Homo sapiens: one gene and its partners. The protein of the gene in region 3 interacts with the protein of the main gene of each other region in a biochemical or structural test. Each region holds a gene or a part of one and is shown on either strand. Other genes may lie near its edges.

Region 1 (7,944 bases), on a different chromosome or scaffold from region 3:
TCAAAGACACTTGTTGTGTGACCAACTAATCAAGAACTGGATGATTAGCAAATTCATGACAAACATCCATTTCAAAACCATAAGCTGCATTATTACCACCATGTCAAAGAAAAATCTCTGAGAAGATAGCAAAGAAATCTCATACCTTAAGATATTAAAAACAAGACTCTGGAAGAAAAAAGATCTAAAGTAAATCCTACTTGAGCATTCCATAGATAAAACATGAGAACTGGGAGGTCGACACGGGCGGATCACGAGGTCAGGAGATCGAGGCCATCCTGGCTAACACGGTGAAACCCCGTCTCTACTAAAAATACAAAAAATTAGCCGGGCGTGATGGCACGCGCCTGTAGTCCCAGCTACCAGGGAGGCTGAGGCAGGAGAATCCCTTGAACCCGGGAGGTGGACGTTGCAGTGAGCCGAGATCGTGCCACTGCACTCCAGCCTGGGCGACAGACAAAAAAACAAACAAACAAAACCATGAGAACTATGGACTATGGAACACCAAACTAGAGACCCCAATAACCTGGTGAAAGGTAAAATCTGCCCTTCAATGTTCCTTCCTGAAGTAACTTAAGATTCTCACATGTACTGTTGCTGGTGCTATTACTCCCTCCAGAAATTCTCAGAAACTACCAAGGTCAGCAAACAAAAGAAACATGAGAACGCTGATAACCAGAATTACAAGTTACATGTTCATGCAAAAAAATACAAGAAAAGGGGTAGAGAGAATTCATATAGTCCAAACGTCCTATTTTTAAATTAGAGAAAATAAAACAGTAAAATACCAAAGACATTTTGAGTTCACCTGTGGAACACCAATTCCAAATACTTCAAGCTTTCACTCCACCCAAAAGCTGGAACGATAAAGTTTAAAGGGTTAAAGTTAGATGTATGACACAGCACATGAGTTTAAAAATTGAGAAAACGAATGTTGACACTTTTTTATATTTAATACATAATTCTTCAAGAATTTGAAGGTATTTGCTGAAACCAAAATGGCAGCCCAGCGAATTAGAAGACGAGCGAGATCTAAAGGAGAGTTTATAGTCTCTATTTTTGAGTTCAAGTGTACTAACCAGCCAAGCTAGTCATGGTTAAGGAGTCCTTACCTAAGGGTAATCAGCTCCGAGAGGGTTAAGTACCTGCTGGAAAGTTTCCTAATCAATGCACCCCAAATCATTCTTCCTCAAAAGTGAAAGTATACAAACGTTAAGTAGATTTAGGGACTCATGGGTTTCCAGGTAAAAGAACAGTACACATACTTCTCTCCCCGAAAAATAAAGCATGAATATTTAATCTATACCTACAACTTGCTTATTTAAACTAAAAGACAATCTGAAGCAATTATATACACCTGTAAACTGCACCGTGTAAATTCAATTAACGTTGTAACTATGGAACTTCCAAAAAATAACATGCTTAATTTAAGCAGGTTCTACTAGAAATTTTGCAAATTCTCGTGTAAGTTCTAGTCGCTACAGAAATCCACACAAATAATTTAAGAAGCCATCTACACACCTGCTGTATAACTCTTTAACTTATTTCACAATGAATGAAAAATCAGCCATTTATCCAACCCTAAGCCTCACGTCACAAGAATCTGAAGACCTGATCACTACCAAACTCGCACATGCTAATATTTGCAGAAACAGTTAAAAATAGAAAGGTAATAGGTCCAAGCTAGCTTGGAAGCGATTTCTGCATTCAAAAACCCCTTTCACGGCTTTGGCCCTCTGCAAATAAAGCGGGGCGAAGGAGGTGTAGGAGGCCGATAACCCAGCTCCCACTCCAGGAGCCCAGGGCCGGGGAGAAACTGCGGGTTATCGCGGGAGGGTGGGGGGAGGCGGACAAGTCGTCAGGCCTGATAGCCAGGCGTAGCCGAGGCCTAGCTCCCCAGCTCCAAATCACTCCACCTCAGTAATGGCGTTTGGTGTCAAGTGGAACCAGACCGGGTAGGAAAGCGGCCGCCGGGCGGGGGGCGGCCAGCCCCCAAACCGACCCGGCCCCCGGGTGCGGACGGCGGGGGGGCTGCCCGCCACGCCCGGAGACTCCATCCTCCTACTCGGCCCCAGACAGGACGGGAAGGGGGAGGAGGGGGAGGGACGGAGCCGTCAGCCATTTTCCCTTACAGTCCAAAACACACAGACACGCTCTCGGGACACCGGCTCCACACACAACACGGGCCCGCGCGCCCGCCCAGCCCGGGCCGGAGGAGGGGGAACGGGGAAGCCCCAGCCTGGCCGGCAGCCGCCGAGGGAAGAGGCTCGCACACACGCACACCCCCCTCGCCCTCCTCCCCTCACCCACATCCAGCTGTTGGCCCCGGGAAAGAGCGTCGCCCCAGTGCAGCTGGCCACTCACCGCACGACACAGACGTCTTCTCACAACCAGGGCACACGGAGGCGGGAGGCACCAGGCGACGGTGGGGCTCGGTCCCGGGACGAGACCTACCCTGGGTGCATCCCAGGCCCGGGGGTGACCGGCAACAAAGTGTATCGAAAGGCTGCGGCGGCCGGGCTCGGGGCTGCGGGCGTCTCAACCAAAAGGCTGCACACCGGCGCCGGAACTCGCTCCTCGCCGCGCCCGCCTCCTCCTCCTCCTTGGCCGGCGACGGCCCTCTTCCCCTTCTCCCCTCAGGCTGGGGCTCTCGCTGAGCTCAGACGGGCTCCGGGCGGTGCGTTTCTCCTGCGTCACCTCCTCCTGCTCCTCCTCCTGCAGCGACGGCTTCACCTTCCCCTAGTCGCCGCCTCTGTCCCCGCTCCAGGCCTGGTGGCTTTGAAGTAGCTCGCTCCTCGCTCCCGGCGCCGACCCAAGCACCGGGCGCTAAGGCGGCCGCCTCCCGTGAGAGAGAGGCGGCGGCGGCGGGCTCCCGCGAGGCCCGGGAGCTGTGTAAGGCGGGGAGGGGCTAGGCGCGACAGAGGCCCTGACGGGGCCGGGTGCGGAGAGGTTGCGGCTCCGGCGGCGGCGGAGACTAGCGTCCGCAGCCGCGGATGCCCGTCCTCGTCAATATGGCGGATCCGGCAAACCAAAAAAAAAAAAACCGCTCGGCCAGTGGCGGCGGCGGTAGCGGCGACGGCGGCAGCAGCGGTGGCGGCGGCGGCGGCGGCGCAGACTCCCACTAGCCCCAGAGCCGCCCAAGACCCGAAGTTCTCCGCCCCCGTCAGGGCCCGCCCCTTTCAGGCCCCTCCTTTCGGCCCTCCCCCTGCTCCTGCCCAGCCCCCTCCCGCTCAGCTGCCCCCTCTTCTCTCCCTCCACCCCGGGCCGTCAAGGCTGGGAGAGCAGCGCGAGCCGCTGAGGGGGCCGGGCTTCGGCGCGAGCCGCCGGGAACCCGGAGAGCTAGGGTGGGGGAGGGGAAGACAATGCGGTAAAGATTGTTCGCGCAGTACTGTTTCTTCCGGCTGGCCCCTTCAGGGTCGTGCTACGGCCAGAAATCCTGTTCCATGCCCCTCGGCTCAGGAGCGGGACGAGGGCAGAGGTGGCTCTAGGACCGAAGTTGGGGAAGGGAGGCCCGAAAAGATCTGGCACACCACTCGGGAGGGGCTGGGCGGCAGGGACTGGCGGGGTGTGTGGCCACGACAGGGTTAATCGCGTGAGCCGCAGCCGCGTCGCTCATAGTTTGACTCGGGCCGCTTGTTTTTGTTCCATTGTGAACCGTAGCCCCGCCGACAAGAACCCGGATGATGACGTCACCGGCCTCCCCCTTTTCCGGGACCGTGGGGGGAGGGGCGCGGAAAGATGAGATCTCGAGACCACGCGCTGGGCGGTCGCCGCCGCGGTGCCTGGAGGTCCCGGCGGTGCAGCTGACCCGCGTCACGTGACGCACGAGCTGGCCGGGCCACTGGCTGCGGGGGCGCGAGGTCCCGAGGGCCTGGCCACCTGCTTGGCGCCGATAGGGGGAAGGTGTGGCTATCTCCCGCAGCGGAAGGAGGGGGCGTGGGGAGTGAGGTCCTTTTCCCCACCCCGCGAGGGAGGTGCTCTGAGAAACTCTTTCACACGATCATGCATCATCACTACCTCAAAGCGTTTAGGCGTCCTCAAAGCGTTTAGGCGTCCTCACAGCCTAGCTGACGGGACTGACCACCTTTTTGGCCATAGGAGCCCTTCAAACAGACCAGCAAAGAAAAAAATTATAAAGTGCCCCAGACGGCTTAGCGAATAGGCCGTACTTGATGTGGCAAGATTAGCCTCCATTGCCAGATCATCAGCACAATTCGGTGTTAGGACCCGGAAGAAACTTATGAACCCATCCGCTGTGTCATGGACTATTTTCTACATGTTTATATTCCAAAGTGCGGGCATAGGAAAAACTTAGGCTAATCTCAAATTAATGGGGTGCTTGGAACAAATCTGTACAGTCTACCTAGGATGCCCAAATGAAGAGGAAATTAACAGTTCCTAATTTACAGATTTCCTTTTGACTTAAAAAATACCTGTGGACATCAAATGGCATGCAAAATCATAGTAAAACCCTACAAACCGAGATCTATTTTATAGAGAAGAGGGTTGAATTTAGTTATGCTATGATTATATCAGTTTGTAATAAAAGACTGTTAAAAATGGAACCAAACTAATGTAGGTGACAGTGAAAGCAAGTTATTGGTATCTTAAATTTTTAAACCATTTCTCTATTTAGCACAAGATTGTTTACAAATTTTTCACCACAAATTATCTAATAGGGTATCCAAGATGTATCATTCATAGCCCTAATAACTCTTAGCATATGTTACCTTGTTTTTATAATTATTTCCATGAATCATTTGCTTCCCCACTAGCTCATGGGCTTCTAAAAAGCAGACACGACCACCCGCGTACACTATAGGCTGTTATTTTCTATTTTAGATAAGGAAACAGAAAGGGTAAATGATTTGCCCGAAGTCAGGATTGGAAAGTGTTGAACACTGGTCTTTTAACCCTATCAAAAGTGCACCTTTAACAAGGATGTCCCCTCTCACCAATTCTGTTCAATATTGTACTTGCAGTTCTAGCCTGAAAAAGAAATGAAAGGCATCCAGATAAGAAAGGAACAATTAAACTATCGCTACTTTCACATGACATGATTTTATATATAGAAAATCTTGGGAAATCCATTATAAAAAAAATAAAGCCAATAAGCAAGTTCAGCAAAACTGCAGGATATAAGATCAATATTTAAACATCAGTTATAGTTTTACACACTAGCAATAAACAATCTGAAAATTAAGTTAAAATTCCATTTACAATAGCATCAAAATCAATAAAGTTAAAAATCGATTTAACAAAAGAAATGCAAGATTTGTACATTGAAAACTACAGAACATCATTGAAAAACATTCAAGACTGAAATAAAAGTATTAAGATAGCAATACTCCTCAAATTGATCTACAGAGTCAATGCAATCCCTATCAAAATCCCAGCAGGCTTTTTTTTTTTTTGCAGAAATGGACAAGATGATGCTAAAATTCATACAGATAAGGAGTTTCCCCCCCACCTCGCCACTAGCCAAAACAATCTTGAAAAAGGAGAACAATGTTGGGAGGGCTCCTACTTCCTGATTTCAAAACTCACTATGAAACTGTACTGCGTAAGGACAGGTATATATGCCAATGGGATAGAATAAGGAGCTCATAAATAACCCTTAACATATATGATCAACTGATTTTCCACGAGGGTGCCATGACCATTCAATGAGGGAAAGGATAGTCTTTGCAATAAATGGTGCTGGGAAAACTGGATATATATATATATATATATGCAAAAAAATGGAGTTGGATCTTTTCCTCACATAACATACAAAAATTAACTGAAAATGAATCAAAAACCTAACCATAAGAGGTAAAACTATAAAACTCTTAGAAGAAAACGTGACAGGGAAGTTTCACAACATTGGATTTGGCAATAATTTCTTGGATATGACAATAGCACAGGTGGAAAAAATAGACAAATTGGAGTTCAACAAAATTAAAAACTTTTGTGCATCAAAAGACACTATCAACAGAGTGAAAAGGCAACCTACAGAATGGGAGAAAATATTTGCAAATAATATATTTGATATGGCATTAATATCCAGAACATATAAAAAACTCCTACAACTCAACTCAGCAAAACAAAAAACCCAAGTCAAAAATGGGCAAAGGACTTGCAGAGCCATTTCTTCAAAGAATATATGTAAATATCCAATAAGCACATGAAAAGACACTTAACATCATAGTCATTAGAGAAATGCAAATCAAAACCACAATGAGATACCACTTCACACCCATTAGAAAGGCTATTAACCAAAAAAATAATAATAATACAGTGTCCGGCCAGGATGTGGAGAAATTGGAACCCTCCTACATTGCTGGCATGAATGTAAAATGGTGCAGCTGCTGTGGAAAACAACATGGCAGTTTCTCAAAAAGCATAAAATTACCATATGACCCAGCAATTCCACTCCTAGGTATATACCCCAAAGAAGGGAAAACAGGGACTGTAACAGACACTTGAACACCACCGTTCATAGCAGCATTATTCACAATAGCCAAAATGTGGAAACAACCCAAATGTCCATCAACAAATGAATGGATAAACAAAATTTGGTGTATACACACAATGAAATATTATTCAGCCTTAGAAAGGAATGAAACTCTGATACATGCTACAACATGGATGAACCTTGAAAACATTATGCTAAGTGAAAGAAGCCAGACACAAAGGCCACATATGGTATGGTTCCACTTATATGAGGTACCTAAAGTAGTCAAACTCATAGAGACAGAAAGTAGAATAGAGGCTACCAGGGGCTAGGGGGAGGGTAATAGGGAGTTGTTTTATGGGTTCAGAATTTCTGTTTGAGATGATGAAAAACGTTCTGGAAATGCAAAGTGGTGATGGTTGCACAACATTGCAAATGTACTTAATACCACTGAATAGTACTCTTAAAATGGTAAATTCTAAGTTATCTGTATTTTACAATAAAAAAAATGAAGAAAAGAAAATCCAGCCACATACAATTTCATATGGTTTAGGCTATACATTACTCTCCCACCAGCTGTTTTAGTCTCAACTCTCAAGTCAAGCTCACCACCAACTGATGCCTTGTGCTCTCTCGAGCTACCCAGAGGGTGCACCTTGGCTCCCAGGGTAGATTTGGCCTACAGGACTGTCCCCTTTTGAGATCTTCCACTTAGTTAATGGGATAGGAAATAAACAGTTTTGAGTTAAAAGAATAGGTTTATTATCACAGTGCAACTCCTTAAATTAAAATCCATATAGTCCAGGTCTTTCTTCTTCCTTTGTTTGGGTTTCTCTTTTCTAACACCTGTCCTTTAGTTTTCAAACTGTAATTTTTTTTAACTTCCTGGTTCTGCTTTATTAGGGCAAAACCTTATTATATTACATTTCCTCATGAAATTTCTCATTGCTCTCTCTCCCCACTCCCCCTGCCCCAGAAATATCTGATAAGTATACTCATTGTTTACTAGGACACTTATCTTAAACCATAGACAAATTTTCCTGGATAAATTGATGTTATTTAATATTTTCAGGGGTACAAATTTTAAAGTTCTGTGGAAATACTTTCTGGGCTAATGGCCAAACTAAAATAGAAGAGGAGGGACCTTTGATAATATGTTCCCTAGAGAAGGCTTTGTGATTGAATGGAATGAGCAAAGTCCACAATGAGTTACTATTTTTAATATAAAAATACGATAACTAAAAATCTAAGTAGGTGGTCCCACTTAATCTTTATGACAACAGGCAGAAAATGTAGCTAGGGAGAACAAGAGATAATTAAATGATCACAGTTGATAATGTGCTATTGCTCATGGTGTCTAAAATTTGACCAAATTTTAGACACCAGTGCCTAACAACCTGCTTAGAAGTAGTCTGTCCCTCCTGCTCTGTGGGAATGTCTCTGAAACTGACCTATTCCCAGCCAAAGACTTGGATGTAAGGACAGCAAGAGTAGCCCCAGCCTTGGAT
Region 2 (7,112 bases), on a different chromosome or scaffold from region 3:
TTAACAGTAGGAATTTTGTAGTGTTGCCAAAACAGATGTATTCGTAGGAAGCTAAAGTGTTGGCCGGGCACAGTGGCTCACGCCTGTAATCCCAGCACTTTGGGAGGCTGAGACGAGTGGATCACTATATCAGGAGATTGAGACCATCCTGGCTAACACGGTGAAACCCCATTTCTACTAAAAATACAAAAAAATTAGCCGGGCGTGGTGGCGGGCGCCTGTAGTCCCAGCTACTCGGGAGGCTGAGGCAGGAGAATGGTGTGGACCCGGGAGGTGGAGCTTGCAGTGAGCTGAGATCGCGCCACTGCACTCTAGCCTGGGTGACAGAGCGAGACTCTGTCTCAAAAAAAAAAAGAAAAAAAAGATGAATAGTTATTTAAAAGCTCTTATTTTCAAACTTTAGTGTACATGTTTACTCTTTGAGACTGGGAGTGGGATGGCACTGGAAGACTTAATTAACCAGCAGTATGCCAGCAAAGCTTATGATAAACATGATGAATCTTTCTGGTTATAATTTTACATTAAAACAAATCAAAAAAGAATGTCCCACTGTATCTTGGAGTCAGATGCTTCTAAGCTTTTGACCCTCACTGGCGTGTATATACTTGTTCTGCTATTTTTTGGAGTACATTGGCACAGTTTGAAAAACATTGCTTACAGATAATGTTTTAATTTAGTATTATGTAAATACCAAAGGCTTTAAAGGATATAATTCAGACTATATCAGTCTTTCGTGTAATGAGAAATTACACAAAATGCTAATAGTACTTATTTTATTTAGGCTGATTTATTATAAACACTGTAGAAACCCAGCTAAAAGCAAAAACACTCTTTTCTTCTATGTTTAAAAAATATATATATTTTTAAATGGCAGATGGAAAGCCAGAAATTTTTAGCAGAAAATAGTGCTTCAGTATATATAAAGAAAGTAGAAGCTAGAATTAATGAAGAAATAGAACGAGTGATGCACTGCCTTGACAAATCAACGGAAGAACCAATTGTAAAGGTGGTTGAAAGGGAACTCATTTCCAAGCACATGAAGACTATAGTAGAAATGGAGAATTCTGGGCTAGTACATATGTTGAAAAATGGAAAGACAGAAGGTAAGTGTTACCGATTGAAAAATAATTAAATCCTTACTCTGCCTTATCGATATTTTTAAAATTTTCCTACAATTAAAGCAGATAATATCAGCTTTCAAGAAGTTTTGGTGTGTATTGTTAATTTGTCTCCATTGTTAACTTTAATGGGATTTCCAAGCTTGATTCTGTCTTACTAACGAAGATTTTAGATATTTCTAATGAATTGAGCATTTCCTGTCTTTAAGTCTCATTTTACATTTAATCCAGAAGATAAAAGGTGTAATAGTATTGGTGAGCCCAGTGAGCTCCTCATTCATTCCTGTACTTCCTGTATACCAAAGGGTGTGGGCTCTCTTTAGTCCTACATACTCTCTTGGGGTTTTGTGATTCTCTTAAAACCTTAAGTTTCCACCTTAAGATTTTTGTAGACTTTCCTTTGGGATTTAGTTGTGACAGGGTGCTGAAAATGCAAAAATATTTGTGTCTTCCATATTGACATACTTAGATAAATTAGATTGGTTTGGGGAACACTGAAGTTACAGAATGGAAAAGGAGGAAGGAGGAGTGCATAAAAGTAAAGAACATTTTTGAGATAACTAACATTTGTTTTTTATAGCTATTTATTTTCCTGGGGTAAAAGAAAAATTGTGACAAGTATCCTAGAAGAAATTACAAGTTAAAAGAACAATAACCATATCCTCTATTCTTAGTTTCTGATGCTTTGTTTTAAAACTTTGCCTTTACCACTTATATGGTATTAGGAAATAAAAAACATGGTACTTTGTTCTCCTGCTTCCTAGACGAAATCTAAGCAATATTTTATCCACTTCTTTTTAGTAAAAGAAATACATATTGCCTGTTGGGGTCATGAGCTATGTAGGGAATGAAAAAATTTTTTAAAGGAGAATTATAAAGAGAAGGAGGATACAAGAGAAAGGAAAACGAAAGCTGGTGGGAAGTTGAGCCATGTTTATCTCTAGTGGAATCCTTACCTTGTGTTTTAAAATTGTTAAATGTTTGTATATATGAGAAATCCCTGAAAAGTTATATGTAATTTAAAAAAACAAAAAAAAAACAAAAAAAACTAGAGAGGCTTCCTTTTTAAAAGACTCTTCAGTTAAACCTTTTTTGTAAAAGCCAAAAAAAAAAAAAAAACAGAAGTCATCTAGTATATTTGCTGTGTTTTCTAAAATTGAGGTCCAAGTCAGGGGTTGGCAAGCTTTTTTGTTGTTGAATAAAATGGCTTGTGAGCCACGCAGTCATAGTGAGAAAATAGTCCTAGACAATAACAAATGAATAATCCTGTGTTTCTATAAGACTTTATTTATGGGCCCTGAAACTTGAATTTCATATAATTTTTATGTGTCACTAAATAGCATTCTTTACAGTTTTTCCTCAGCCATTAAAAATGTGAAAACCATCCTTAGTTCATGAGCTGTACATAAATAGATGGCAGGCTGTATTTGCCCCACGGGTTCTAATTCGATGACCCTTCTCTAAGTGGTCTCTGGTAGACTGGGACTTTATGCAAAGCATTTGCCCTGCTTAAACAAAATGAGTATTGATAAATTATGTAATGTACTGTTTAGGTATTGAATGAATGCTTTCTTACCTACCTTAGGGGATAGGAAATGTTTGATGGAGAGGTTGTTGGGCATACCTGAATTACAGCATCTCTGTAACCTGTGTGGAGATGTATGTAAAAGGTGTCAGGTATGCCTATCATGGCGAGCACTTACGTGAATGAAGGAATACCATAATAGTACTCACCAGAGTTCTCCTTTATTTAGTACCTTAGGTTTCCAACAACACAGTAGCTATCTGTGATTCTAAATTAAATTTTAAAATCCTGCTTTTGTCCAGGCAGGGTGGCAAACGCCTGTAATCTCAGTATTTTTGGGAGGCTGAAGCAGGTGGATCGCTTGAGCTCAGGAGTTTAAGACCAACCTGGGCAAATTGGTGAAACCCTGTCTCTATGAAAAATACAAAAATTAGCTGGGCATGATGGCACATGCCTAGTCCCAGCCACTTGGGAGGTTGAGGTGAGAGGATCATTTGAATCTGGCTGGGGAGGTCAAGGCTGCAGTGAACCAAGATGATGCCACTGCACTCCAGCCTGGGCTACAGAGGGAGATCCTGTCTTAAGAAAAAAAAGGTGGGGGGGTTAATTTTTCTGAGCTTCCGCTAGAAACCTGGTGGCAAAATATCCTAATTGTGGTAGGCCCTGCTCTTGGAAAAAATGTTGCTCTTGTTGAGAATATAGCAGAGCCAACTTCACCATTATGAAGCCAAATTCTCATAAATCAGAAAATGAAAAACAGTTTTCTCACTGTGAATGGAGGATAAATTGGATTGATTATTAGATGCAGATAGCACTATGAAATGAAGTTCAGAGGTATCTTTTTTTTTTTTTGAGACGAAGTCTTGCTCTGTCGCCCAGGCTGGAGTGCAGTGGTGGGATCTCAGCTCACTGCAAGCTCTGCCTCCCAGGTTCATGCCATTCTCCTGCCTCAGCCTCATGAGTAGCTGGGACTGCAGGCTCCCGCCACCACGCCCGGCTAATTTTTTGTATTTTTATTAAAGACAGGGGGGTTTCACCGTGTTAGCCAGGGTGGTCTCGATATCCTGACCTTGTGATCCGCCCGTCTCAGCCTCCCAAAGTGTTGGGATTACAGGCGTGAGCCACCGTGTCTCGCCAGTATCTTATTATTTTATTAAGTGTATGTAGAAATAATGATATTTAATTTTTGCATGCCAAATTATTTTCATTTACTTTTACATTCCCTTTACCCCAACATTTAAATACAATGAAATTGTAGTAATTTATGTACAACTAAATACACAACATGTAATATCTAAGCAAAACTTACAACAACATAGGATTGAAATAGACAAGTTGTGAACCATTTTGTTAGAAGTATTTGGTGTGCCACATTTACTGTAGTATGTGTCCATAGATTGTTGCATTTGTAATACCTGTTCTAAATATGGGAAACTTGGTTGTAATTTATGCTAAGTATGTGAGAAGCTATAAAATTGCCATGTGTAGGTTACTATGGGCATATATTATTAATGGAAACTAACTAAAATTTGCTGCTGAAAGTCACTGAAATAAAGTTTAGTAAAACTTTGTAAATCTTGCTTTGAAATATTTTAAAAATGTATACAACTTTAAGCTCTAAACTACTCTTAGAACTGTAGACCAAGGTAGGCAAATTAGGGCCTGCCTGGTGCACTACCAGTTTTGTTAAAAAAAAAAAAAAAATCAAGAGTATTTACACATGAAAATTTATATAAATTTTCAGGGTCCATGAAGTTTTATTTGAAACATAGTCACACTGAATAATTTATGTATTATCTGTGGCTACTTTCTTGCTACAGCGTCAGAGTAGTTGAGTCAGAGCTCTATGGCTCACATTTTAAAATATTTATTATCTGATACTTTACAGAAAAAACATTGGTCAGCCTCTGATCTAGAAACTCTTAATGCCATTTTAAAAAGTTATTGATTGTAAAACTTTTAAAATTATCATTGTAAAGTTCTGACACTGTGTTCTCCCAGTAAGTTGTTATTGCAAAGAAACACTAGACATATGGGAAAACTGTATTTTAAAATCTGTATTTTAGTCTTGTGAAAAATGATATTAAAAAATGGATAGGATCCAGAGTTTTCATTCTAAATTTAAAAAGTATAGTGAGATAGACCAAATTTTGAAGTACAGATATTGGCTTAGGATGCTACCTGGGAAACATTAGGGATTGCTCTCAGGAAAATATTGAAGAAGTGGTATTTATATTATACATTTCATAAAAACTTTACCTGAGGTGTAATGAAGTAAATCCTAGTATAGTTCATTTGATTTGTTTTCATGATTATCAGTTAAACCTTTGGAAATACCCATAAGACTTAAACTGGCTTTAAAATTTCTTCCTCATTACAGGGACTACCAATTACCTCTTAATTAGTGACCCTTTTTGTAGACGTTTTGTAGTGTCATTAGGTCTGCATTAGAGTTATGTAGGATAAAGTATTTATGAACTCAAAACTGCAGTTGCCATGTTTTTGTGACATTACTTGTTTATTATGGTTTTTGACATCTCTTCCATGTAAATTTAAATTTGCTAGGACATTTAATTGATGGTTTCAAAGCATCTCATCTAAAAGTTGTGTTTTATAAATTACAATAATAACCATTAACTAGCCTACTTCTTCATGTTTTCATATCAATATATGTATATTTTTAATAGTCATGTGGTCAGCAAATGGGGGTAATGGAGAAATAAGCTTCTCTCAGTATTATAGCGTGAACAGAGATTCGTGTTTTTTTCTTTAATCTTTAATGTAGCCAATTTGTGTTTTCTGATTTGTAGACCTTGGTTGCATGTACAAGTTATTTAGTCGTGTGCCAAATGGTTTGAAAACAATGTGTGAGTGTATGAGTTCCTATTTGAGGGAGCAAGGTAAAGCTCTTGTTTCTGAAGAAGGAGAAGGAAAGAATCCTGTTGACTATATCCAGGTAAGTAAACCCAGAAGATTCTCTGTGTTTATGATAAAGGCATTTTGACAAGTGCTAAAAAGGCCACTTTTACCATGCTGTGTATTGTGTACTTTCAACTTAATTGTCCCAGTAGTAAATTAATATTTGTAATTATCCTACATATTTTAGGATTTTGCAAGGTGTGCGTATTTATATCAGGGAGCTAAAATTCAGCTGCTACTTTTCATTTAACTTCTTTGATGAAGACCTTGTTTAAATAGCCTCAATAGTGAATGTGAGGTTCTTTGGTATGCCTTAGTGTTTGTATACTGTAGTATATTGGAAAAAACAACTGGTTTAAGTATTTTTTGTTTGAAAATGTTTTGTTTTCAAGGAGTACTATGAATAAATTATGTGCCATGTTTTGTGTTTTAACATAATCAGCTTTTTTTGGTACATTTTTTAAGCTAATTTTTTTCACTGGCTAACCCATTCCATCAAGACAGGAGAATGAGAAACAGTGAGGAGGTTCTTTGGTTCGTTTGCATTGTATTAATACATATATGGAAGTTATAATACTTCTCTCATTGACATTTTTAATAGAGGCTTAGATATAGGCTTGAAAATAATATCAAAACTGTAAGTTTAAAAATGAATATACATGTTTATTACCAGCAAAGTTAAGATAAACATACATGGTCATAAGTGTATTATTTATGGAAAAATTATTATAATGTGTCCTAAATTTTGTTTTTATTTCTAAGGGCTTATTGGATCTGAAGAGTAGGTTCGATCGCTTCCTCCTGGAATCATTCAACAATGACCGTCTCTTTAAACAAACTATTGCGGGTGACTTTGAGTATTTTCTCAACCTCAACTCCAGGTCTCCTGAATACCTCTCATTATTTATTGATGATAAGCTGAAAAAGGGAGTCAAAGGGGTAAGTAGTAATGCATTTGAAAATAACATTTAATTTTATTTAAAGATATAAAATTATATGTAAAATTAGGACATTTCACAGATAAAAATTAAGCATGACCCATTGCTGTGCTTAAATGGGTGCCATGGTCTATTAAAAAATATTGTTTGAAATACTTGACATGCCCAAACGTAGTTAGACATTTCACTTAATGTGTAATTGGCTTCAAAAACAAGCAACTGGATGGGCTTGGTGGCTCATGCCTATAATCCCAGCATTTGGGGAGGCCAAGACAGGAGGCTCTCTTGAGGCCAGGAGTTTGAAATTAGCCTTGTTAACTTAGTGAGACTCCATCTCTACAAAAAAAAAGAAAAAAGAAAAAAATTAGTGGCACACAGTGGTATACACCTGTTGTCCCAGAAGCTGAGGCAGAGGATCACTTGAGCTCAGGAGTTCAAGGCTGCAGTGAGCTGTGATCGCGTGACTGCACTCTATGCTGGGCGACAGAGCAAGACCTTGTCTCAAAAAAACTGAACAACTGTCCAGGTATGGTGGCTCATGCCTGTAATCTCAGCACTTTGGGAGGCCGAGGTGGGCAGACCACCTGAGGTTGGGAGTTTGAGACCAGCCTG
Region 3 (5,623 bases):
AGCAGGAGAGCTAGCAAGAATGCACAATGCCTCTTAAAGCTTCTCTGAAGTACTGTATGTCTTGCCCACTTGCATTCTTTTGGCCAGAGCACCCCCTGATCAAGACTGACATCAGTAGGATGGGAAAGGATGCCCCTCTGCAAGCCACCAGGCAGTGGGAGAGGATGTACAATGCTCTTATAGGGAAGGGGAGATTAGCAAGTAATCTAATAATAGATTATTGAACTGGCCTTTTAAACCATTGTACCATATTAGTACAATGTCTGTGGGTGTGCAGACTGTGTCTCCTGGCTAGAGATTATTAGCCAGGAGACGATAATGTAGCCTACCATGGGGAGAAACTCAGTTTAAATATCCGTTTCTCTGTGAAAATATCTCAGAAGACACACATTCCAGGCTCTTTGCTGAGGATTTTATTTTGCTGTTATCTCATTTAATCATCACAACAATTCTGGGGAAATGGGTTCATTTTAGAAATGTGAAAATCATTACTCAGAAAATTGTACATTTTGCCTAAAGTCACACAAGCTAGTAAGGATCAGATCCAGGGTTTGAATCCAGGTCTGCTTTGATTCCAAAGCCTGAGCCCTTCTATACAAACTACACAGTTCAAACATGTCACAGAATCTCTCCTGCCCTGGGGCTGTGGCCCTTGCTCCCCTATGACACCGATGTTTTAGGAAGATGGCTAGAACCTGCCCGGATTTTTCCAAGGAAGTCAGACTAATCCCTAAGTCAGGCATACCTTTTTCCCTCTGTCCTTACTGGGCTTTGGTACTAGGCAGTGGTTTCTGTCCTCCACAACTGCCCATGGCTGTCTTTGTGTGAAGGGACCCCGATTGTGGCCAGTTAACTCAGTGTCCTAAGGTAGACAGACTTACCAGCTTCTACACTGTTTTTTTTGGGTTTTTTTGTTTTTTTTTTTTTGAGATGGAGTTTCGCTTTTGTTGCCCAGGCTGGAGTGCAATGGCGTGATCTTGGCTCACCACAACCTCCACCTCCCGGGTTCAAGCGATTCTCCTGCTTCAGCCTCCCCAGTAGCTGGGATTACAGGCATGTGCCACCATGCCCGGCTAATTTTCTATTTTTAGTAGAGACGGGGTTTCTCCATGTTGGTCAAGCTGGTCTCAAACTCCCGACCTCAGGTGATCCGCCTGCCTCGGCTTCCCAAAGTGCTGGGATTACAGTCGTGAGCCACTGTGCCTGGCCACTTCTACACTTTTATCTACCACCCATTCCCCCATCTCGCAGTTTACCTTTTCCAGAGAATTCTTGAAATGCTACAGGGGTACAGGTCCCCGTTCCTTAAAAACATAAAATCAATTAAGAGTAGTGTCTGGAACACTATACGAGAACTCCAGAGGACTCATGGAATAGAAATCAACTGCAAATACTCATGAATCTTCACTGAAGGTCCTCTTCCATCAGAGTAAGAATGTCAGCTTGATGGAAGACAGGGAAGGTGAATTTGTGAAGCTTCGTGTGTAGGAGAAACCTGTAGCCAGGAAGTTACTGAGGCTGGCCCTTCCTGGCATTTCTGTTGATGGCCTTCACACCCCTTCCTCCAGGTGGCGCCCCTCCCAATGTGGATCCTGAGGCCTACTCCTGGTTCCAGTCGGTGGACTCAGATCACAGTGGCTATATCTCCATGAAGGAGCTAAAGCAGGCCCTGGTCAACTGCAATTGGTCTTCATTCAATGATGAGACCTGCCTCATGATGATAAGTGAGTCTCCGCCTTGCCCTTGGGCCTGAGCTGGGGCAGAGCCACCTGATAGTGGACAGTAGGTGGGTAGGTGGGTGGGTGGACATTCTGAAGAGAAATTCATTGACCAGGGAGGACTGTGGGGAGGAAGCTAGGTTCAGGGTGAGATCCCCTAGACTGAGAGCTCTTTTCCTGAGATCTTTCTTAAGTTCTAGACCCTGCCTAGTTACAGGTTAACTTAGTTTCCTCTTCTGTAGAATGGTACTCCCTCCCCTGTAGGAAACAGCAGGGAGGGGTCAGGTGCCAAGCCTGCAGAGAAAATGCAGTTCTGGATGGGGTGGGGCTAAAGGTGTCCAGAGTAGGAGGACGGTGCAACGCTTGATGTGGGTGTCTCAGGTGCAGGCATCTGGGCCTCAGGGCTTGGTTCTGTGAAGTCGCCTACTCCAGCCTGGAGAGAAGGGCTGCCTCAATGGGTCCTGAGGGGGACCCTTGGCCTTCAGTCTTGAAGCCTTCCTCCCCTCCTTTCCCTCCTCACCTTCAGACATGTTTGACAAGACCAAGTCAGGCCGCATCGATGTCTACGGCTTCTCAGCCCTGTGGAAATTCATCCAGCAGTGGAAGAACCTCTTCCAGCAGTATGACCGGGACCGCTCGGGCTCCATTAGCTACACAGAGCTGCAGCAAGGTGCGGGTCATGGCCGGGGCACGATGGGCAGGACAGAGCTAGACTCTTCTCTTTACACCCTAAGATACAACAAAGGGGTTTCCTCTTGTTACCGAATGTCCACCTGCACTACAAAATGCTGTTCTCAGTGCAGGCCTGCATCCCTCACCCCTTCTTTGACCCAGCTGGGGCACTGAGCCAAGAGCCAGGGCAAGGAAACACCTGGGTCCAGAATCAGGGCTGGACCCTGGAGTGCTGGGTGAGACGGCCCCAGCCACAGGGAGCCTTAAGGATGGAAACTTGGCACCTTAAGGACTATGAGACCAGTGTGTGTGGCTTGGGTGACTCCTTTCTCTCCAGTTTCTAGCATGTAGAATGGAAAGAGCCCTGAACAGGGCTCAGAAAGATGGGTCTGTTGCCACCTCTGCTAGTGGACAGTTTCTTTCCCAACTTTTGGGACCCTGAGCACTCTAAAAGTTGCAGTTGGGGAAGATGACCTGAGGCCACAGCCCCAGGTCTGGTTCCAAACTGACTGTGTAAGGCAGAAGGCCACAGTTTGGGCTCAGGCAGGTTAGTAAGAGGTTGGGGGAGGACCCAAGAGGGAGCTTTGCCACCCAGGAGGGAGAAAGGGCTCCCCAGAGAGTCTAGTCCTTTGCCCAGGCTGTGGATTTCATTCAGACTAAGGAGGTCTGTGGGCAGGAGTGAGTGCACCACATCTGCCCCCAGTAAAAGGGAGGGGAGATGACCTATAGTAATCACCTACTCTTGCCAGCTTTTGTCGTGGATATTAGTAAGGGTGATATTAACCACAACAAAACGTATTTACTGAATGCTTGCTATTTTTAATAGGCTTATGTAATTCATTCTTCCCATGTGCTAGGTACTATTTATAATTCCACACCCTTCAATGAAGAATCCCTTATAATCTCCCTTTTACCGGTGAGAAAACTGAGGTTTAGTGTAGGTAACCTGCCCAAGGGCCCGCATAACAAATGGAGAGCTGAGGTTTTAGCCTGGCCTGGTAAGTTCTGAACAGAGGAAGGAAGGAAGCATCCCAGTGAAGAGACAGGATGCTCCAAGAGACCTTGGAGTGACAGTGACTTTATTAAAATAGCATTTACCAAGTGCTTTTTCTGTGCCAGTCACTGTGCTAAGTGCTTTACATGATCACCCGTTTTAATCCTTACTAGAACCTACAAGTTAAGTATTATCCCCATTTTAGAGATGATAAGATAGGGATAGTGAGGCTAAGCAACTTGCCCAGTGGCTGACTCCAGAGCAGGTCCTCATACCTCTGCTGTACTGCCTCTGATGTCTGCCCCAGGCAAGGTGGTCCTGGGAGCTCAGGCTTCCTTTTGGAATGCAAACGAATCAGAGATGATTGCGGATAGTCCGTTGTCGTCTCTGCAATCCCCTGAGCCTCAGTTGAAGAGACAATAATGGAGATTTGGAGAAAGAGGGATGAGGGCCTTCCACCTAAGGGGAGCATCCAGACACGGTCCCTGTTGTGTTTCTGACATCTTAGACAGACCCTTGGGATTTCTCTACCCTCTTTGTGCTTCTGTGCCCATCCTCTCGAAGTTCCTTGAACTGTTGTGATCCAGTATTCCTGATTGATGGAGGTGCTCATGGCAGGTTTTTGTGTGTCTGGTCTGTGTGCCCCTCTTCTCCAGCTCTGTCCCAAATGGGCTACAACCTGAGCCCCCAGTTCACCCAGCTTCTGGTCTCCCGCTACTGCCCACGCTCTGCCAATCCTGCCATGCAGCTTGACCGCTTCATCCAGGTGTGCACCCAGCTGCAGGTGCTGACAGAGGCCTTCCGGGAGAAGGACACAGCTGTACAAGGCAACATTCGGCTCAGCTTCGAGGACTTCGTCACCATGACAGCTTCTCGGATGCTATGACCCAACCATCTGTGGAGAGTGGAGTGCACCAGGGACCTTTCCTGGCTTCTTAGAGTGAGAGAAGTATGTGGACATCTCTTCTTTTCCTGTCCCTCTAGAAGAACATTCTCCCTTGCTTGATGCAACACTGTTCCAAAAGAGGGTGGAGAGTCCTGCATCATAGCCACCAAATAGTGAGGACCGGGGCTGAGGCCACACAGATAGGGGCCTGATGGAGGAGAGGATAGAAGTTGAATGTCCTGATGGCCATGAGCAGTTGAGTGGCACAGCCTGGCACCAGGAGCAGGTCCTTGTAATGGAGTTAGTGTCCAGTCAGCTGAGCTCCACCCTGATGCCAGTGGTGAGTGTTCATCGGCCTGTTACCGTTAGTACCTGTGTTCCCTCACCAGGCCATCCTGTCAAACGAGCCCATTTTCTCCAAAGTGGAATCTGACCAAGCATGAGAGAGATCTGTCTATGGGACCAGTGGCTTGGATTCTGCCACACCCATAAATCCTTGTGTGTTAACTTCTAGCTGCCTGGGGCTGGCCCTGCTCAGACAAATCTGCTCCCTGGGCATCTTTGGCCAGGCTTCTGCCCTCTGCAGCTGGGACCCCTCACTTGCCTGCCATGCTCTGCTCGGCTTCAGTCTCCAGGAGACAGTGGTCACCTCTCCCTGCCAATACTTTTTTTAATTTGCATTTTTTTTCATTTGGGGCCAAAAGTCCAGTGAAATTGTAAGCTTCAATAAAAGGATGAAACTCTGGAGTTCCATGTTTTCCACCATGATTTCTCAGCTACAGGTCCATCCACTCATCCTTTCAGTGACTATTTAAGTACATCCTATACACCACGCCATGCAGAAAGCAGCAGCTTGGGGGGACATTGCCTATGTGGGGCTCCTCTCCACTGCCAGAGGGAAGTTGAAGTATAGGGTAGCCAGCTGAGGGGCCTGCCGGGTTCAGTTCAGTATGGCCTGAAGGTCTATTTAGGAAGCTATTTCATAGCAGTTTTAGGGCTGGCATTCTGGGTTGAAAGCAGCTACCTCAAACTTCATAGCCTGGCCTTTTCTATTTTCTCAGGCCCTAGTTTTATCTTCCAGACAAACTCCATTTATTAAGTCATAACGTTCTCCCCACTTTTATTAAGCACAGACATCTGTACTTGCAAGTCAGATCTTTAGATCAGCATAATACCCAGTCTACACCGAGTGTCTCTAATGAGCTGACCACATTTCAATCAAAAGCCAAAGACACCAGACATTCTAGTTTGCCAGGGGGCTTTATTCTGGGTAATGGTGATTATCTTTTGGCTTTTTGAGATAAAGAGCTCTGAGGCCCTGTGCAGGGCTCTCCTCCCTGCAGTGGGTAGTTG

Evidence for each region.
Region 1: of the proteins of PEF1 (region 3) and USP9X, one has a biochemical effect on the other in vitro, tested with the Homo sapiens proteins (one study listed by BioGRID).
Region 2: the proteins of PEF1 (region 3) and CUL3 form a complex in vitro, tested with the Homo sapiens proteins (2 studies listed by BioGRID).

What each region holds. Positions count from the first base shown.
Region 1 is NC_000023.11:41,080,530-41,088,473, reverse strand, and holds the start of USP9X (ubiquitin carboxyl-terminal hydrolase 9X), read right to left. Parts: upstream 3,030-7,944; 5' UTR 2,365-3,029; intron 858-2,364; exon of another isoform or gene 809-857; intron 1-808.
Region 2 is NC_000002.12:224,505,345-224,512,456, reverse strand, and holds part of CUL3 (cullin-3), read left to right. Parts: intron 1-874; coding exon 875-1,103; intron 1,104-5,453; coding exon 5,454-5,599; intron 5,600-6,324; coding exon 6,325-6,501; intron 6,502-7,112. UniProt on the Homo sapiens protein: Core component of multiple cullin-RING-based BCR (BTB-CUL3-RBX1) E3 ubiquitin-protein ligase complexes which mediate the ubiquitination and subsequent proteasomal degradation of target proteins.
Region 3 is NC_000001.11:31,629,260-31,634,882, reverse strand, and holds the end of PEF1 (peflin), read left to right. Parts: coding exon of another isoform or gene 1-37; exon of another isoform or gene 38-217; intron 218-390; exon of another isoform or gene 391-1,568; coding exon 1,569-1,724; exon of another isoform or gene 1,725-2,244; coding exon 2,245-2,388; coding exon of another isoform or gene 2,389-2,447; intron 2,448-4,040; coding exon 4,041-4,270; 3' UTR 4,271-5,017; downstream 5,018-5,623. UniProt on the Homo sapiens protein: Calcium-binding protein that acts as an adapter that bridges unrelated proteins or stabilizes weak protein-protein complexes in response to calcium.